3 linked regions of the Homo sapiens genome follow. The protein of the gene in region 3 interacts with the protein of the main gene of each other region in a biochemical or structural test. Each region holds a gene or a part of one and is shown on either strand. Other genes may lie near its edges.

What was found. Proteins that work in one complex are often made in the same cells at the same time.
Region 1: the proteins of UBE2H (region 3) and TRIM72 form a complex in vitro, tested with the Homo sapiens proteins (2 studies listed by BioGRID).
Region 2: the proteins of UBE2H (region 3) and MARCHF8 form a complex in vitro, tested with the Homo sapiens proteins (2 studies listed by BioGRID).

What each region holds. Positions count from the first base shown.
Region 1 is NC_000016.10:31,217,113-31,224,137, reverse strand, and holds part of TRIM72 (tripartite motif-containing protein 72), read right to left. Parts: exon of another isoform or gene 7,003-7,025; intron 5,044-7,002; coding exon 4,948-5,043; intron 4,850-4,947; coding exon 4,619-4,849; intron 3,243-4,618; coding exon 3,220-3,242; intron 1,312-3,219; coding exon 1,193-1,311; intron 1-1,192. UniProt on the Homo sapiens protein: Muscle-specific E3 ubiquitin-protein ligase that plays a central role in cell membrane repair by nucleating the assembly of the repair machinery at injury sites.
Region 2 is NC_000010.11:45,532,353-45,539,227, reverse strand, and holds the start of MARCHF8 (E3 ubiquitin-protein ligase MARCHF8), read left to right. Parts: upstream 1-3,856; 5' UTR 3,857-4,017; intron 4,018-4,057; exon of another isoform or gene 4,058-4,126; intron 4,127-5,938; 5' UTR 5,939-6,016; coding exon 6,017-6,118; intron 6,119-6,875. UniProt on the Homo sapiens protein: E3 ubiquitin-protein ligase that plays several important roles in innate immunity and adaptive immunity.
Region 3 is NC_000007.14:129,837,937-129,844,961, forward strand, and holds part of UBE2H (ubiquitin-conjugating enzyme E2 H), read right to left. Parts: intron 1,400-7,025; coding exon 1,271-1,399; intron 1-1,270. UniProt on the Homo sapiens protein: Accepts ubiquitin from the E1 complex and catalyzes its covalent attachment to other proteins. E2 ubiquitin conjugating enzyme that transfers ubiquitin to MAEA, a core component of the CTLH E3 ubiquitin-protein ligase complex.

The DNA.
Region 1 (7,025 bases), on a different chromosome or scaffold from region 3:
GCTGGGGTCTTCTCCCAACCAATTGCAGGCCAGCTTTCTCTCCCCTAATCCTCTTGGCATCTCTGCTCACTGGGCTTGGGCCACAAGATCACACCTGGCTCAACTTCAGTTTGCCCAGCTGTGAGATGAGGCCATGATTGCTTCCCTCCAGGGTTGCAGGCAGGCCTGCATTTTCTTTTTGTTTTTGTTGTTGTTATTGTTGTTGTTTTTTGTTTTTGTTTTTTGTTTTTTTGAGGCGGGGTCTCACTCTGTCGCCCAGGCTGGAGCGCAGGTGCAACCTAGGCTCACTGCAACTTCCAACTCCCAGGCTCAAGCAATCCTCCCATCTCCCATCTCCCAAGTAGCTGGGACTACAGCCACGTGCCACCACACCTGGCTAATTTTTTTAAGTTTTTGTAGAGACAGGTGTTCTCACTATGTTGCCCAGGCTGGTCTCCAACTCCTGGGCTCAAGTGATCCTCCCACCTCGGCCTCCCAAAGTTCTGGGATTACAAGCGTGAGCCACCGAGCCTGGCCAACAGGACTAAATTGATACAAGGCATGGGACTCACCATCTGAGGCCCAGACAAGGCCCAAGGCCCAAGGTCAAGGAGCCTGATCTTCACATCAGCCTAGACCCAGTCTCTGAGCCTTAGTTTTATCTTGAATAAAATGAGGCTGTCTGCATTCCCACCTGCGCTGAGGCAGGAAGGGCTGCCCCAGCAATGTGTATGTCCCAGAGCTCTGTAACCTGCATCATCCAGCTCTTGGGGGGAGGAACTGAGCCCTTGGGCCTCCCCAGCCACAGGCCGCCAGAGTCACTCTCTGACCCAGGCCAGTCCCCAGGGTTCCAGGAGCTCTGCAGAGCCTCAGTCCCCAATTGGCAGGATTTATCATCTCCACCGTCCAGAGAGGGGCAGAGACTGACCAAGGATCACACAGCAAGTCAGTGGCTCAGACCTAGGCCCCAGCGTCCCGTGCCACCAACAGCAGCAGCATTTTCATGTCAGTCACCCACTGCAAACCCCATGCTCTCAAAGGCCCTCCTCCCAACACAGGTTAGAGGACTGCAGCGGCAGTCCAGAGGCAAAGGGGCAATGGGTACCTCCTTCAGTGGCCTCCCCAGTTGGGACTGGGAGGCCTCTCCAGGGTGGCTAGGGCCTCCCATCAACTGCCTGGTCACACACAAACCTGAGCCAGTCCCTCCCGGTACCTGGCATCAGAGCCCGGAACATCTTCCTCCACACCTGGAATTTGAAGTCATCTGAGATAATTGGCAGCTGGATGTCCAGACGGGCGGGTGGGGGAGACTCTGCCAGGATCTTCTGCAGCCTGGGGGTGGGGAGGGGAAGGGGAGGCATGTGTGAGGGGGGAGGACAAGGGCTGGGGGGATTCCAGGATCTCCCCACATCGCACCCCTGCTTAAAACTCTTCCTTTGGAGTTTTGGTTTGGGAAGATGAGAAAATTCTGGAGATAAACACTGGTGATGGTTGTACAATGTGAATGTACTTAGCACCACTGAATTTAAATGCACACTTAAAAATGCTTAAAATGAGCGAGGTAGAGTGTAGTCCCAGCTGCTCAGGGAGGCTGACTCAGGAGGCTCACTGGAGCTCAGAAATTTGAGTCCAGTCTGGGCAACATAGCAAGATCCTGTCTAAAAAAAAAAAAAAAAGAAGAAGAAGAAGCTGAAAATTGTCAATTTTATGTTACATGTATTATTTTACCACTGTTTATTTGGTTTTGGTCTTTTTTTTTTTTTTTTGAGATTGAGTCTGGCTCTATCACCCAGGCTGGGGTGTAGTGGCATGATCTTGGCTCACTGCAGCCTCTGCCTCCCCAGTTCAAGCAATTCTCCTGCCTCAGCCAACCAAGTAGCTGGGATTATAGGCGCCTACCACCATGCCTGGCTAATTTTTGTGTTTTTAGTAGAGGTGAGGTTTTGCCATGTTGGCCAGGCTAGTCTCGAACTGCTGACCTCAGGTGATCTGCCCGCCTCAGCCTCCCAAAGTGCTTGGATGACAGGCGTGAGCCACTGCACCCGGCCCAACTACATTTTCTTTTAATCCTTCTGTTGGGATAAGGTCCAAGCCTCTCAGCTTCGCCAGTGTGCACACACCTACTACCGCAGCTTCCTCTTCCCTCCCACTCGCCAGCCCTCTCGCTGGCTGTCCCCTCTCCCAGCAATGCCATTCTCCCAGCAACACCCTTCTCCCAGCAATGCCCTTCTCCCAGCAACACCCTTCTGCCAGCAACACCCTTCTCCCAGCAACGCCCTTTTCCCTGCAATGCCCTTCTCCCCACAATGCCCTTCTCTCTGCAATGCCCTTCTTCTCCCAGCAATACCCTTCTCCCCGCAATGCCCTTCTCCCAGCAATGCCCTTCTCCCAGCAATGCCCTTCTCCCCACAGTGCGCTTCTTCTCCCAGCAATGCCTTTCTCCCCGCAATGCCCTTCTCCCCACAATGCCCTTCTTCTCCCAGCAATGCCCTTCTCCTAGCAATGCCCTTCTTCTCCCAGCAATGCCCTTCTCCCAGCAATGCCCTTCTCCCAATGCCCTTCTCCCCAGCAATGCCCTTCTCCCCGCAGTGCCCTTCTCCCCACAATGCCCTTCTCCCCACAATGCCCTTCTCCCTGCAATGCCCTTCTCCCCATAATGCCCTTCTCCCAGCAATGCCCTTCTTCTCCCAGCAATGTCCTTCTTCTCCCAGAAATGCCCTTCTCCCAGCAATGCCCTTCTCCCAGCAGTGCCCTTCTCCCCGCAATGCCCTTCTCCCCATAATGCCCTTCTCCCAGCAATGCCCTTCTTTTCCCAGCAATGTTCTTCTCCCAGCAATACCCTTCTTCTCTCAGCAATGCCCTTCTCCCCGCAATGCCTTTCTCCTCACAATGCCCTTCTTCTCCCAACGCTTTGCCTAGCCAGCTCCTGTTCATCCCTCCAGGCCCCAACTCAAACATTCACTCCATCCCTGGCCACCTCTTTCCCTCAACGGCCACACTGAGCACACAGTGACGCCTGTGTCCCCACCCACATGTGTCTCACGGCACCAATCTAGGAGGTCCCTGAGTGAAAGGATCCTTCCAGATCATTTCTGTCTACAACCTTGTGTTCAGGCAGGGGTGGGGCAGCAGACTGAATTGCGGGTGTGCAGGCACAATAGTGAGTGGAGAGTGAGCCGGCTGGTGTCCCTAGAAGACTGGGACAAGTCGGGCAAAGGGACAGGGCCAGGTTGCTCTCACCTGCTGGTCACCAGGCAGTATTTCTGGAGAGAGAGAAAAAGAGAATGGTGGTGAAGCCGATGGTGGGGACACTGGAAACTTTTGAGGATGGGGTAGACAACTAGGAATGCTGAGTGCAACGTCAGAAAGAATCAGAAAAGCTAAAAGAGGCCAGACGAGGTGGCTCATGCCTGTAATCTCAACACTTTGGGAGGCCAAGGTGTGTGGATTGCTTGAGGCCAGGAGTTCGAGACCAGCCTGGCCAACATGGTGAAACCCCATCTCTACTAAAAATACAAAAAAAATAGCTGGGCATGGTGGCAGGCACCTGTAATCCCAGCTACTTGGGAGGCTGAGCCACGAAAATCACTTGAACCCGGGAGAAGGAGGTTTCAGTGAGCCGAAGTCATGCCACTGCACTCCAGCCTGGGCAACAGAGCAAAGCCCTGTCTCAAAAAAAAAAAAAAAAAAAAAAAAAAAAAACGCAAAAGAGACCTAGAACTCAAGGCCACCCCTACCCCTTCACTTTTATGTGGATTACAAAAAGGTATCTTTGCCTCCAAGAAACTCTGATTCCACCTGTTAGAAAACTGTCCTAATAGGCCGGGTGCGGTGACTCATGCCTGTAATCCCAGCACTTTGGGAGGCCAAGGCAGGCAGATTGTTTGAGCCCAGGCATTTGAGACCAGTCTGGGCAACATAATGAGACCCCCATCTCTACTAAAAATACAAAAACTAGCCAGGTAAGCGCCTGTAGTCCCAGCTATGGGAGGCTGAGATTGGAGGATTGCTTGAGCCTACAAGGCTGCAGTGAGCTATGATCATGCCACTGCACTCCAGCCTGGGTGACAGAGTGAGACCCTGCCTTTAAAAAAAAGACCAGGCGCGGTGGCTCACGCCTGTAATCCCAGCACTTTGGGAGGCTAAGGCAGGTGGATCACAAGGTCAGGAGATCAAGACCATCCTGGCTAACACGGTGAAACCCTGTCTCTACTGAAAAATAGAAAAAATTAGCCAGGCGTGGTGGCGGGTGCCTGTAGTCCCAGCTACTCGGGAGGCTGAGGCAGGAGAATAGCATGAACCCAGGAGGCGGAGCTTGCAGTGAGCCAAGATCCTGCCACTGCACTCCAGCCTGGGTGACAGAGTAAGACTCCATCTCAAAAAATAAAAAATAAAAATAAGAGTGTCCTAATAAATATATAAACCTACAATGTCTATGATATGAATAGTGCTCACTTAATACAATGTCCTTATGCAGTGCTCAACCTAAACAACCATATAGCAGTCCTGAGGCCTGCCCCTCCCGGCTGTGTGCTGCTGGCTTATCCCTGCCCCTCTCTGGGCCTATCTGACAATGGGATGAGGTCTCTGGGCCCTGAGCAGGGGGCTGAGGCAGGGAGGGGGGTCACCCAGTGCTCACCATGAGGAACTCAGTCTGCGGCTTGTCCGCCACCTCCTCCAGGACCTTCTCCATCTGCCGCAGCTGCTCCAGGTAAGAGTTCAGGCTCCCCAGCTCCCGGCGCAAGGCGACCCCTGCCTCACCCCGTACACGCTCTGCCTCGCGGTCCAAGGAGCCCTCCAGTGCAGCCAGGAACACCCGCATCTTGCCCAGCTGCTCCCCCACGGCCCCCCGGAACTGACGCACTGTCTCCTGCAGGGATGGGGCAGTGATTGAAGGGATAAAGACTCTTGGCTGGAGACCCCTAGCCTGGCCCCCAGCCCTCAGACATGGCCCTGTGAAGTCCTCACCTCCACCTCCACCAGCTGATGCTCCAGCACAGCCACACTCTTCTCCTTGCGCATGCATGCCTCCTGCAGCTGCAGTTTCTGCTGTGGCAGCTGTGTCTGGGGGTCGAGGCATGGAGAAGTGATGGGGATGCCACCCACCCAAAACCCACACCTCCCATCCTAAACCTGCCCTCTGTGGCTCAACCTCAATGCCAGCTCCTCCTCCAGCCATCTTCCCATCCCCAAACCCACTTACATGCCTCCCAGCCCCAGCCAGTGCTACTCCTGAGGTCCGAATGCTTCCCCTGCCCCTTGTCTATTTTGGTGCGGTTTTTTATTTATTTATTTTGGTGTTTTGTTTTGAGACAGGGTCTCACACTGTTGCCCTGGCTGGAGCAGTGGCATGATCACAGTTAACTACAGCTTCAACTTCCCAGGCTTAATTGACCCTCTCACTTCAGTCTCCCAAGTAGCTGGAACTATAGGCACACACCACCGTGCCCAGCAAATTTTCTGATTTTTTTTTTTTTGAGTTGGAGTCTCGCTCTGTCACCCAGGATGCAGTGCAGTGGCACAATCTCAGCTCACTGCAACCTCCACCTCCTGGGTTCAAGCGATTCTCCTGCCTCAGCCTCCCAAGTAGCTGGGACTAATTTTGGTGCACCACCACGCCTGGCTAATTTTGGTATTTTTAGTAGAGACAGGGTTTCACCATGTTGGCCAGGCTGGTCTCAAACTTCTGACCTCAGGTGATCCACCCACGTCAGCCTCCCGAAGTGCTGGGATTAGACATGAGCCACCACTCCTGGCCATGATTTTTTAAAATATTTTTGTAGAGACAATCTCACTATATTGCCCAGACTGGTCTCCAACTCCTGGCCTCAAGCAATCCTCCCACCTCAGCCTCCCAGCATGCTGGGATTACAGGCATGAACCGCCACACCCCCAGCCCCTTGTCTGTTTTGTTGACCCCTCCCTGGCCTTGCCTTCCCTGATCCCCTCTGCTCAGCAGTCAGCCCCATAGCACAGGTCTTTGCGAGGATGACAAACATCAGTGTGGTTTGGTCTCTCCCACCAGACAGGCAGGCACAGAGCTTGGCACACAACAGACCTCAGGGGGTACATGAAGGATATATGAAAGAAGAAAGGCAACCTACCCCTACTCCTGGGCTTCCTCTCTTACTTAAAAGCAGAACATCAGCCTCAGTCAGCCTGTCAGCCTGACCACCAAGTCAGCCTGCCTGTACACACATGGGCTTGGAGTAGGGGGCAGGAAATTTAATTAAAATGTCCCCTGCTGGCCGGGCGTGGTGGCTCACACCTGTAATCCCAGCACTTTGGGAGGCCAGGGCGGGTGGATCACGAGGTCAGGAGTTCAAGGCCAGCCAGACCAAGATAGTGAAACCCCATTTCTACTAAAAATACAAAAATTACCTGGGCGCTGTGGCAAGTGCCTGTAATCCCAGCTACTCGGGAGGCTGAGGCAGGAGAATCACTTGAACCAGGGAGGCGGAGGTTGCAGTGAGCCAAGAATGTGCCACTGCACTCTAGCCTGGGCGACAGAGCAAGACTGCATTTCAAAAAAAAAAAAAAAAATGTCCCCTGCACAGACCAACCATTCTGTGGTCTAGATCTTACCCAAGACCTCAAATGCAAATATGCAAATATAGGAGAGCTCCCAATACTCCTGCCAAAGCCATTTTTTTTTTTTTTTTTTTTTTTTTTGGAGACAGGATTGCCTAGGCTGGAGTGCAGTGGCAGAATCACAACTCGAACTCCTAGGCTCAAGCAATCCTTTTGCTTCAGCCTCCCGAGTAGCTGGCACTACAAGCATGAGCAACCATGCCAGGCTACAAAGCCACTTCTTTGCTGGGAGGTGCCTGACCATGGAATCAGTTCCATTCCTGCCTCAATGACTTGCAACCTGTTTCCTCCTCTGCAGATTGGGAACAGCAATCCCCACCTCAACAATTTGGCGCCCCCACTCTCCCAGGGGAAACTGGGGGACCCTCTAGGCGGTGTTTGCAGAGTCCCCTCCCAGCAGGAGCCACAGGGTTGAATAGGAGCTGCCAGATCAGTCTCCTTCCCGGGACATCCCC
Region 2 (6,875 bases), on a different chromosome or scaffold from region 3:
TGTACCCAGTAGTCATTCAGGGGCAGGTTGTTCAGTTTCCATGTAGTTGAGTGGTTTTGAGTGAGTTTCTTAATCCTGAGTTCTAGTTTGATTGCACTGTGGTCTGAGAGACAGTTTGTTATAATTTCTGTTCTTTCACATTTGCTGAGGAGAGCTTTACTTCCAACTATGTGGTCAATTTTGGAATAGGTGAGGTGTGGTGCTGAAAAGAATGTATATTCTGTTGATTTGGGTTGGAGAGTTCTGTAGATGTCTATTAGGTCCGCTTGGTGCAGAGCTGAGTTCAATTCCTGGATATCCTTGTTAACTTTCTGTCTCGTTGATCTGTCTAATGTTGACAGTGGGGTGTTAAAACTTTCCCATTATTACTGTGTGGGTGTCTAAGTCTCTTTGTAGGTCACTAAGGACTTGTTTTATGAATCTGGGTGCTCCTGTATTGGGTGCATATATATTTAGGATAGTTAGCTCTTCTTGTTGAATTGATCCCTTTACCATTATGTAATGGCCTTCTTTGTCTCCTTTGATCTTTGTTGGTTTAAAATCTGTTTTATCAGAGACTAGGATTGCAACCTCTGCCTTTTTTTGTTTTCCGTTTGCTTGGTAGATCTTCCTCCATCCCTTTATTTTGAGCCTATGTGTGTCTCTACACGTGAGATGGGTTTCCTGAATACAGCACAGTAATGGGTCTTGACTCTTTATCCAATTTGCCAGTCTGTGTCTTTTAATTGGAGCATTTAGTCCATTTACTTTTAAGGTTAATATTGTTATGTGTGAATTTGATCCTGTCATTATGATGTTAGCTGGTTATTTTGCACGTTAGTTGATGTAGTTTCTTCCTAGCCTTGATGGTCTTTACAATTTGGCATGTTTTTGAGTGGCTGGTGCCAGTTGTTCCTTTCCATGTTTAGTGCTTCCTTCAGGAGCTCTTTTAGGGCAGGCCTGGTGGTGACAAAATCTCTCAGCATTTGCTTGTCTGTAAAGGATTTTATTTCTCCTTCACTTACAAAGCTTAGTTTGGCTGGATATGAAATTCTGGGTTGAAAATTCTTTTCTTTAAGAATGTTGAATATTGGCCCCCACTCTTTTCTGGCTTGTAGAGTTTCTGCCGAGAGATCAGCTGTTAGTCTGATGGGCTTCCCTTTGTGGGTAACCCAACCTTTGTACTCTTTCTATCGCCTTCTTAAAACTGGAAGGGTGAGTGAGATAGGGCAACAGTAGCCATCTCCATGTCATCTAGATTAGTTAGATTAGGGATAACACAAAGGAAAAATTAAAATTTTCTCTATCTATCTTAGTCCTTTTACTATTTCTATGGCTTTAATATACTCGAAAGTTCTGCAACCAGCACCATAGTCAATTTTAGAATATTTTCATTATCCTAAAAATAAATCATTGAATCCACTGCTTCCTCCCGTTTACCCATTCCTACCCCAGCTCTTGGCATGCACTGCTCTACTTTCTGTCTCTATAGATTTATCTCCTCTGGGCATTCCATACAACTGTCATCATGTAATATATGGTTCTTTGTGACTGGCTTCTTAGTATAATTTTTTTCTTTTCTTTTTTTTTTTTTTTGAGACAAGGTCTCACTGTATCACCTAGGCTGGAGTGCAGTGGCGCCATACCGGCTCACTGTAGCCTCAACCTTCTGGGCTCAAGCGATCCTCCCAACTCAGCCTCCTGAGTAGCTGGGACCACAGGCATGAGCCACCACACCCGGCTAAGTTTTGAGTTTTTTGTAGGGATGTGGTTTTGCCATGTTGCCCAGGCTGGTCTGGAACTCCTGGGCTCAAGCGATTCACCCACCTTGGCCCCCCAAAGTGCTGGTGTTATAGGCGCGAACCACCACACCTGGCCTACTTAGCATAACTTTTTAAAGGTTCGTCCATATTGTGGCATGTGTCAGTACTTTATTTCTTTTTATTGCTGAATATGATTCCGTTGAATGGATATAGCTTATTTGATTTATCCGTTTATCATTTGATGGACGTTTAGGTTATTTCCACCTTTTGGCTATCATGAGTAATGTGATAGAAACATTCATGGACAAGTTTTCATATGAGGAGATGTTTGCATTTCTCTTTGGTGTATATACCCTAGGATTGAAGTTGTTGGGTCATATGATAACATGTTTAACCTTTTGAGAAAGAGCCAGACTATTTTTCAAAACGACTGCATAGATCCTCACTAGCAGTATATGAGGGTTTCAGTGTCACAACATCCTTGCTAACACTTGTTTGTCTTTTATTATGAACATAATTAAAGTAATATCTAATAGTTTTGATTTGTATTTCCATGATGGCTAATGATGTTGATTAACCCATTTTTCATTGGGTTATTTGTCTTTATTATTATTATTATTATTATTATTATTATTATTATTATTATTATTTTGGTAGAGATGGGGCCTCGCTATGTTTCACACACTGGTTTTGAACTCCTGGCCTGAAGCAGTCCTCCCACCTCAGCCTCCGAAAATGCTGAGATGATAGGCGTGAGCTACTTGCACCTGGCCTTGCCCTTATGTTACTGAGTTGTAAGAGAGTTGTTTATATATTCTAGATACAAGTCCCTTATTACATATATGATTTGCAAACTTTTTCTTCTGTCAGTTGTCTTTAGACTTTTTTTTTTTTAACATTTATAAATAGAGGTAGAGTATTGCTATATTGCCCAGGCCTTTCTTGAGTTCTGGCCTCAAGAGATTCTCTTGCCTTGGCCTCCCAAAGTTCTGGGATTATAGGTGTGAACCATTATGACTGGCTGTGTTTTCCCTTTCTCAGTGGTGTCTTTTGAAGCACAAAAGTTTTTATTCTGATGATGTGTAGTTTGTCTGTTTTTCCTTTTGTGTGAGGAAGAGATCCAAATTTCTTTTGCATGTGGCTATCTAGTTGTCCCAGCACCATTTGTTGAAAACAGTACTCTTTCCCCAAGAAGTGATCTTGGCACCCTTCTTGAAAATCAGCTGACTATAGATACGTGGGTTTATTTCTGGGCCCTAAATTCTATTCCATTGATATATCTATTCATATTCCAGTATGACACAGTCTTGATTACTGTTCCTTTGTTGTAAGTTTTGCAATCTGGAAATGTGAGCTCTCCAACTTTGTTCTTTTTCAAGGTTGTTTTGGCAGATCTGAGTCCCTTGAATTTTATATAAATTTTCAGATCAGCTTGTCAAATTTCTGTAAAGAAGTCAGCTCAGTTTTTGATAGAGATTGCTTTGACTCTCTATGTCAACTTGGGAAGAATTGCCATTTTAACAATATTAAATCTTCTGATCCATGAACATGGACATCCATTTCCAATTTCTTCAACAACCAGCTTTGGCAGTATCTCTTCTAGATGTGAATGTTCATGTTAGGTGGGCTGTATTTTGCAAGTTAGCATTAGTCAAATTGAAGCCCTCATGCCTGGATTGTGAGGCATAGTGCTGAGGTTTAACTGTTATTCTGTGTAAAGATTAATTTAGTTGATATAAAAGATGTTTGGAAATTATGCAAAGAAAATAATGTAATATATGATTTGTATTTTTCATGTAAATCTTCACATAAAAAATGGCATGGCCTGTTTTATCGTTTGTTTGTAAACTCATTTTTATCCTAAATATGTGTGGCATAGGAGGGAGATTGTTTCAGGCAAACTTATAGGTCTGTTGCTTTGTTGTGGTGGTACATATCAAAAGACTAACTTCAATGACAGTGAGGAGGGATGTCCTTCAAAACTGTAAAAAATTTGAGACCCTCTTGCATCTGTGTTTCTGTGCCATAAATAGCCCTTCTCAGGCTTGTCATGGGCATGTACCAATGATGTAATAATGATGATTATATCAGAAGCACCACAGGTAGCTTTTGGCATGGTAGGTATAGGGCTGTGGATATCGTCAGTTTGACCAAGTATTCCAAGAGGCCCCATGGAGTTTGTCATCTGTAATAGAGGACGTTAGTGCATTAGTGATGAAAAAACTGCTTACCACTGACTATTGTGATCTCCCAGGGAGTATAAGGCAGCTCCGCAGTAAGTGCCTCTTGTTTTGTGTGACGTGCTTGAATACAAACATTCAGACTGTTTCTTGGGCACAGTAGTGCTCCATCTTATGCCAGCCTCATCAAAGGCTTGAAATAGAGTAGGTGGTGTGTGATACCTAGACACTAACATCCCCTATTCTATTTTCCTTTTTTTGTTGTTATTATCAATGGTCACTCACTTACTGTAAAACTAGACTTTATAAACAGATTATTATTTTAGCTAATTTTCTTCTATGTGTTGATCCCTCCCAGTTTTTGTTCCTTTTTGTTGTTCATTGATTCTAGAGTTGTGTGAAGGAAGCCATTTCGTGATTCCTGGTGCTCCTCTGCTTGCTTAGTGACACTACTAAGAATTGGCACCAGCCTTACAAACACCTGCCTTTGATCCAGAGTAGAGTTTGGGGAGAGGTAGAGTAAGTGACTGCTTATCAAATGTGACCTTGGGGTTGTCAGGCCCTGTTGTTTACCCTACCTTTTCCTACTGCCTCACCTGTCCCCACCCCCTACCCCAGCACATGGTTAATAAATGAAAATCTCCAAATTCGAGATTCATTCTTTTGGTTGAAGGCTTCCATTTTCTGTTAAAATTTGAACAACATGAAACATTTTACTACATTAAACCTTCTGGATAATTTACGTTTAATTGGTTTTGTATACAGAGTGGGATAGATCTCAGTGGGTAAGTGGGGAGAAAGAACAACACACAATTCAATTATTAGACATTTTGGGGGATGCGTAAGAGAAAACCAGAAACAGGGCAGGAGTACCTGGAATCACTGAAGACAGTTTATGCATACACTGTTATTTTACCTAAAGGCAGCCTTTCTCATGGTTCTTAGGCATGTCATGGTGACCCTTCATATTCCCTAGGAAACCCTTTACGGCAGTGTTTGGCAAACTATAGTCTGGTGGGCCAAATCTAGCCTGCTGCCTATTTTTGTAAATAAAGTTTTATTGGAACATAACTATGCTCATTCATGTACATACTCTTTTTTTTTTGGTGGGGGGGAGGTTGGGGGGTTGGAGTCTCGCTGTGTTACCCAGGCTGGAGTGCAGTGGTGCGATCTTGGCTCACTGCGAGCTCCGCCTCCTGGGTTTGTGCCATTCTCCTGCCTCAGCCTCCTGAGTAGCTGCGACTACAGGCGCCCGCCACCATGCCTGGCTAATTTTTTGTATTTTTAGTAGAGACAGGGTTTCACCGTGTTAGCCAGGGTGGTCTCGATCTCCTGACCTCGTGATTTGCCCGCCTTGGCCTCCCAAAGTGCTGGGATTACAGGCATGAGCCACCGCACCCGGCCCATTTACATGCTCTCTATGGGTGCTTTCATGCTACAGTGGCAGAGTTAATTAGCTGGAACACACTTGGACCACAGTGCCTAAAATATGTATCTTGCCCTTTATAGGAATAGTTTGCCAACAGCTCGTGTAGAGTCTCTACTTTTGGAAGGTTAAGTATGGATCATAGATACCTTGAGTTTAATTTGGACTTCCTAACCTCTGATCTCACCATTATGTGGACTCACAGACAGTGGTTTTAAGGAAAGATCACTGCTTATTTCAGGACAAATGCTTGGTCATGATAAAAAAAAAAGTTTAACTTCAAAAATATTCTTAAAATAAATGGTGGCACTGCTTTGTTTTAATCCTAAGTAGCCAATGGAAGATTATATCTCTGATTATACATGTACGTGATCCACCTGCCTCTTTCAGGTGCTCCCATCTTATTATGAGAAATGTTAGAATTTTCCCCTTAGACATTCATCTTCTATTGTTTTTGAAGACCAAACATTTATGTTGCCGTAACTTATTTAAATATACATATGAATATAAGTATAAAATGTTAAGCTCACTCTTGGAAATTTAAAGTGTTTTAGCTGAGTTATGTTTATTCTCTCTTCATTTTCTCTCAGCTTGAAATCCATGGCCCAAAATGACTCTACCAGTGGAGACTCTCTTCTGTGAAGAAGACGACCAGATAAGAGGTTGGGATGAGCATGCCACTGCATCAGATCTCTGCCATTCCATCCCAGGATGCCATCTCTGCTAGAGTCTACAGAAGTAAGACCAAAGAAAAGGAGAGGGAAGAACAGGTACTGGGAGAGTATCTTTTTTAGTTTCATTATTTTTATTAAATTTTTATTAAAGATGACCTAGAACAGTGCTTAAACTCTAAAGGTCAGGTTTTCTCTGATAATATACTGACAAGCACACAAATAGTTGTACTCAGAAGGAATTGTCTTTTTGTAGATTTCTAGGTTTTCAGATTTTGGTGTAAACTACTGTTTATAAATGGTTATAAATGACTTATCTTCATTGGTTAAATCTACCTGATTATTTTTGGTTAATCACTGTGACTAAGTTCTTTGGATTCTCAGAACATGATGCTGCTAGTTTCCTATTCATCGTAGTGTGAAATTTGGACACCAGATGGCTGGAATTTCTTAATATGTGTCTTAGTCTGCCCTAGCTGCTGTAACAAAATGCCATAGCCTGGGTGGTTTAAATAACAAGCATTTATTTCTCACAGTTCTGGAGGCTGGAAATCTGAGATCAGGGTGCCAGCATGGTTGGATTCTGGTGAGGTCTTACTTCCTGACTTATAAACAGCTGCCTTCTTGCTGTGTCCTCACATGGCATAGAGGGAGGAAGGAAGCAAGCTGTCATGTGGCTGTTCATATAGAAGGACTGATCCCATGGAGAGGGTTCCACCCCTAGGACCTAATTGTCTCCCCAAGGCCCCACCTCCAAATACCATTACATTATGGATTAGAGTTCTGGCATAAAAGTTTTGTGGGAAACATAAACATTTAGTCCATAATAGTGTGTACATGGGGAAGCTATACAAAC
Region 3 (7,025 bases):
AAACAGGGCTACTGCTAAATTGTTGAGACAGAATGCATATGTGAACTAGAGAAATATACTCTGCTCCAAGATATCTGTGGTTTGCAGACATTGCTAAGTGATTCCTATGTCAAAATTTTAATATAGTCTCATAACAGCACTTTATCTGGCTGAAACTGACTGCCTTTTTCTTCAAATACATGTTTGCTTAGCTATATATTTTGCTACATAAATTAGATATTAATTTGCAAAGCACTTGAGATCTAATTAATTATAGTAAATTTATTTCTGCTTTATCTCAACAACAGCTCCAAACAATACCCTATAGAGACCTTGGAAGAAGAATTAGAAAACAAATAGAAGAAAAGCTATTGTTTCATGAATAGTCCCTGTTTGCCTCATACCTGCACATTTCAGAGTGAAGACCTGCACATTCAAGCTCTGGTAAATTACTTCTACTGCCACCTCTTGCAAATGTACCTCAGAGAGGCCACACATTTTGAGGAAGCAAACATTCTGGACTGCTATGCAGATAGGCCCATCATGTGAAAAACTGGCTAGATACTAATGCCTGCCATTGGTTAAAAGCAGCAGGTATATTTCACAAACTTTGAATTCCTTTGCTTCTTGGTGGAGCTTCATGTATCTAGACTTTTCACTATGAAAGTTCTGAAACATACACAGAGGTAAAATGGAAAATCCAATGAACCCAGGTGGAGCTTTAGATTTTTTTTCTTTTTTAAAGACAGAATCTTGCTCTGTCACCCAGGCTGGAGTACAATGGCACAGTCTAGGCTCACTGCAACCTCTGCTTCCTGGTTCAGGCGATTCTCTTGCCTCAGCCTCCCGAGTAGCTGGGACTACAGGCGCGTGCCACCACACCAGGCTAATTTTTGTATTTTTAGTAGAGATGGGGTTTCACCATGTTGGCCAGGCTGGTCTCGATCTCCTGACCTTGTGATCCGCCTGCCTCGGGCTACCAAAGTGCTGGGATTACAGGCGTGAGCCACCACGGCCAGTCGCAAACTTATCTTCATTTAAATGAAACTCATATCCCATCAGCACGTAAACTGTTTTAAGGATGGGAAAATAGGATTCTAAATCGCAAAGGATGAGCAAACTGGTGCTACTGCCACCCGAGGTTGGTGAGCACTACTTCAGCCCACAGCTGTCTCTTTTTAGGCCTAAGAAAAAGTATTAGGAACTAAGTAATTTAAGAAGGACTTTTAATGACTGAAGCCCAACAGATTTAAGTTCTTTTGTCTCCAGGTTAAACTACCCATCCTCTTACCTTTAATTTTCTGCTTGTATTCTTCTGGTCGGTGGAGGTACATGGCTGCAGCGTCACCATTGAGAGGATCTATGGGGTTAGGATAGGCCAATAACTGAGGCAGGAAGGACTCAAATATATTGGTAAGATCTGAAAAACCAAACAAACATGTCACACATGGGAAATGCAAGTTCACCTAAAATTCACTTGCATTCAGTAGTCAAGCTGCTTACCTTCTTAGATATTCACACGGGGATGATTCTCCATACGAGTGTGCTCTATTACATGTGACTTGTATTACACATTCATTTCAATACCAATTTAAACATTTTAATTTTAATTTGAAGAACGAGATAAAGATATACCTGACATTCACTTTGAAGGACAATTTTCCCAATTCTATTTCACTCTATTTATATGGCTATTTCACACAGCCATTTTCTACAGCTTACAAAACCCCCCACTCTGAAAGGTATTCAGATGCTGGGTCTTAAAAGAATTGAAGACAGTTTTTGTGGGGTTTTTTTGTTTGTTTTTTTTTTTGAGACAGAGTCTTGCTCTATTGCCCAGGCTGGAGTGCAGTGGTGCAATCCTGACTCACTGAAACCTCTGCCTCCATGTTCAAGCGATTCTCCTGCCTCAGCCTCCCAAGTAGCTGGCACTACAGGCACCTGCCACCATGCCTGGCTAATTTTTGTATTTTTAGTAGAGACGGGGTTTCACCATGTTGGTCAGGATGGTCTCAAACTCCTAACCTCAAGTGACCTGCCAGCCTTGGCCTTCCAAAGTGCTGGGATTACAGGTGTGAACCACTGCGCTCAGCCTTGAACACAATTTTATAGGACTTGACATTTAATTCAATTCTTGCAACTTCTAATGGAGGTAAATATAACCAATTTTTCAATTATTCTGGGTAATGAGGATAGGAATCTATATGGACCACATAAGACTACAAATATTCATAAGACAGATAAGCACCAATCTACTGCATTTATTTATTTAAAAAAGTTTTTTTTTTGAGAGAGGATCTCACTCTGTTGCCCAAGTTGGAGTGCATAGGTGTGATCATACCTCACTGCAACTTCAAACTCTTGGGCTCAAGCCAACCTCCCAGCCTCAGTCTTCCAAGTAAATTGGACTATAGGCATGTGCCACCATACCCAGCTAATTTTTTTTTTTTTAAATAGAGACAGGGTCTCCTTATGCTGCCCAGGCTGGTCTTGAACTCCTGGACTCAAGAGATCCTTCCATCTTGGCCTCCCCAAGTGCTGGGATTATAGACGTGACATTTATTAACTCCTTTCTTGCCAGGCATACACAGATGATATCTACACACAGTTAGCAAACAACAAACACCTGCAGTTACCCAGCGTTTTAGAAAAGCAGGCCCTGAGAACCTGGGTATAACACAACCCACACACCCCATAGCTCAGATATGCTGTAACTTCCACACTCTGCTCCTCAGTGAACTGCAGCACCCCTGAGAAATGGAAGGACATGAGAATGCTTCCATGTCTCTGCCCCACTCCAGCTGCTTTGTCATGTTTTATATAAAACATTCCTGTTTCTGGAGACAATGCTGAAGTATACTAAGTAGCATAAAAAACTACTCATTAATTTAGTCAGCTCTTTCAACCAATTTTGCTTTTAACAATGGGCGCTCCTTTGCAGTATTACAGATGAATGCTTTGCCAAGCCACATTGCTTGAGATTTGTGGTTCTCAGCCAAGGGTGATTTTGCTCCCCATGGAATTTGGCAATGTCTAGAGACATTTTTGGTTGTCATATCTAAGCGGTGCTACTGGCATCCGGTGGGTGAAGGCCAGGGAAGCTGCTAAACACCACAATGCACAGGACAGCCCCACAACAAAGGATTATCTAGACCAAAATGTCAGCAGTGCTGAGGTTAAGAAACCCTGATCTAGATAAAAGCGGTAGGCAAACCTTTTTGTAAAGGGTCAAATACTTTTAGGCTTTGCAGGCCACATATGGTCTCTGTCATAACTACTCAAAACTCAGCTCTGCCACTGTAACACAAAAGCAGCCAAAGTATAGGTCAACAAATCGATGTGGCTGTATTCCTATAAAACTACATATACAAAAACAAGTACCCAAGGTCTGCCCAACTTTGCTCTAGAAAATCTTACCTATAAGAGGTGGCTCTTATCACTGTAAGGTTAAGAAGCTGAGCAGTTAGAGACTAATCTAGAGCTGTGTTACTCAACCGAACTTTCTGCAGTGATAAAAATGTTTTATATGTGCTCACCTAAACCAATAGCCACTAGCCATAAGTGGCTACTGAGCACTCAAAATATGGCCAGTGTGAATAAGGAAATTAATTTTCAGTTTATTTAATTCTAATTAAATTTAAATAACCACACATGGCTAGTAGATCCTGTATTGGACAGTGCAGGTCTAGAGAATGATGGGCTAGAGGGTCCCATGACAGCTACCACGTCCTGTTCTCACACACCAGGTATTGACACAGAGCAGCTCTGCCTTACAACAAAAGCCACAGACTTGGGGTGATTTCATCAGAGTCTATTTCACCTTCATAAGGCTGACTTCAGAACGGTCCTAAAGAGCCACTTTATAGTAAGGTTCTCATGTACCACGAAAGAAATCCTGACACTCCTAATCAAAAAAGCAAAACAAAAATCACCTTCCTATATAACCCCCAAACTATCTGCAGTAAGATTTTCACCAATGTTTTATCTACAATTTTTTTAAAAAGGGAAACAATTATTATGGTACAAAACCATTGAAAACTATTTGTTTTCAATGAAAAAAATGCTTATACTTGAATGCTGGGTAGAGAAAGGCCATAAAATGGTATGTTTTCTAGAATTACAACTATGTACAGTGTGTATGCATAAGACAAACATTTTAAAAAGCTACCTCAAGGCAATAGATGTGTAACTTCTACTTTTCACATTTCAAATGACATTTCTTTTGCCTTTAAAAATCAACATTTTTGGCTCACACCTGTAATCCCAGCACTTTGGTAGGCCAAGGTGGGTGGATCACATAAGGCCAGGAGTTCGAGACCAGCCTGGCCAACATGGCAAAACCCTGTCCCTACTAAAAAATACAAAAAATTAGCTGGGTGTGATGGCGCGTGCCTGTAGTCCCAGCTACTTGGGAGGCTGAGGCAGAATTGCTTGAACCTGGGGAGGTGGAGGTTGCAGTGAGCCAAGATTGCACCACAGTACTCCAGCCTGGGCAAGTGAGTGGAACCCTGTCTCAAATAAATAAATAAAATAAAAATAACATTTTCCTGTAAATATGTCCTTTCTATTTTGGCATATGTTTGAAATATCCAATAAAACATGAAAAGTCTGAAAATGTTTTTATTTTCTTATCTTTATCCTTGGGTGGGTGAGTTATTAAGGCAGTGGTAGAAAATGCCAAAAGGTAAGCAAATTCAGTTTTACAGGCCAGACGCAGTGGCTTACAACTGTAATCCCAACACTTTGGGAGGCTGAGATGGGCAGATCACCTGAGGTCAGGAGTTTGAGACCAGCTTGGCCAACACGGTGAAATCCCGTTTCTACTAAAAATACAAAAATTAGCTGGGTGTGGTGGCAGGTGCCTGTAATCCCAGCTACTTGGGAGGCTGAGGCAGGAGAATTGCTTGAACCCAGGAGGTGGAGTTTGCAGTGAGCCCAGACTGCGCCATTGCACCGCAGCCTGTGCAACAAGAGCAAAACTCTATCTCAAAAAAACAAAAATAAAAACAAAAAACAGTAGTTTTACAATTGAATGTGATCCCATAGCAGGGAAAAGTTAAACAATAGTTACATTAACAGTAATTTTTTTTTTTTTTTTTTTTTGAGACAGAGTCTTGCTGTCAACCAGGCTGGGGTGCAGTAGTGTGATCTCCACTCACTGCAAGCTCCGCCTCCTGGGTTCACGCCATTCTCCTGCCTCAGTCTCCCCAGCAGCTAGGACTACAGGCACACGCCGCCACATCCAGCTAATTTTTTTGTATTTTTAGCAGAGAAGGGGTTTCACCGTGTTAGCCAGGATGGTCTCGATCTCCTGACCTCGTGATCTGCCCGCCTCGGCCTCCCAAAGTGCTGGAATTACAGGAGTGAGCCACTGCGCCCGGCCCATTAACAGTAATATTAACAGTAATGGCAGGTTAATGCTTACATAGTGCTTACTACAAGCAAGGAACTCTTCCATGGTCTGCATATACACTCTTAATTTCACTACAGTCAATGAGGTAGGCACCATTTTACAGATGGAGAAATTGAGGCACACAGAGCTTAAGTATGGATCAGGAACTCAAACCTGAGCTCATCCACTATGCTGCCTCTGTTAATGGATAAAACACACACTGCCGCTGCCGCAAATTTCACGAAGGCACAAGCTCCCCATGTCTCTGGGTCAAAATCGCATACCATCGCTGGCAGGGAAGCTAAATCCATGGATCAGAGATGATCACCCTCCTCCCCAAAGAATCCCTCACAAGTGCAAAGAAGCATGCTAAGCAAAGGACGTTCAGATGTTTCTGTGGCTATTCACAGAGACGGTGTGCTTGTTTTCATGCAGCTCCACCGCAGGAGGTAACCCGCAGACACCTGCACACAGCGAACGGAAGGCTCCTCCTGCCATATTATTATTACAGGTGCTGCTCAAAAGGATTAGCAGCTGGATGCTATTACATAACAACGAAAACCTTTAAAAACAAAGCATAGGTTTTATGTTCTGAAGTAATGTTCAGAAGTGCTTCAGGGCTAGAGAAATATCACAGACAACGTGTTATAAAACTAGGAGTTTAGCGTGTCCCAGAAAGAGATTTTATACCCTTTCCTACTACTTTTAAGTTTCCTCAAGCTACCAATAAAAGGCTTTGCCTATGAATTTGTTCCAAACAAATAAAAGAACCCTTAATTATTGGTTCTTCCTTCCTGTATCTACCGTCTTCCTGCATTAACACATTTTTGATCCATTTTACAGAAGTGCTGAGTCACACCTGTAAAACAGAAGAGCAGAAAAGGAAACACATGAGGCCCAGTTTTGGGTGAAGATGACAACTTCGGGAGGCCAGGATGTGATGGCTCTGCCATCTTAAAGCAATAAGGCCTTCCTGCAAGTGGCTAACACAGTGATTACTCCTAAGGGTGCTTCTGAAAGGAGCATCTCTCAAATGTGCAGATGTGCAGAAAGTCTTCTTTCAAGATAAATACACTGGCAGAGAAGACTAAAACTATAAATCAAGAATAAAATAAAGATACTCATCTGTAGAAAAATAAAGAACACTTTTTCCCTAGATTTTTGTTAATGATAAAACGATAAAAATGTGTCGATAATAATAACGATAAAAATGTGTCAGTTCAAAGATCTTTATCTAAAAACATTAACCTTCAATTTTTTTAAAGGAAGAGAGCCAGATACAGTTGACCTAAACCTGTAGAGTACAGTCAGCCGACCCCATTTCCGCCTGTCTTAACTTTTAAAGGAAGTCCCAAGATTCCTGAGTATATGGTTTATGATGAGCAAACAGCTCTTACTTTTGCCTTAGACTCAATTAGAACCAAAATGTGGTTCATTAGCACTGACTCTTCAGTCTGATCTTACATTAATGTTAAAATTATAACACTCATATCTCAGTTTAGGCATATAATTTATATTCATATTTACTATTTAAAAACAGGCTGGGCACAGTGGCTCATGCCTGTAATCCTAGCACTTTGGGAGGCCGAGGCAGGTGGACTGCCTGAGGTCAGGAGTTTCACACCAGCCTGGCCAACGTGGCAAAACCCTGTCT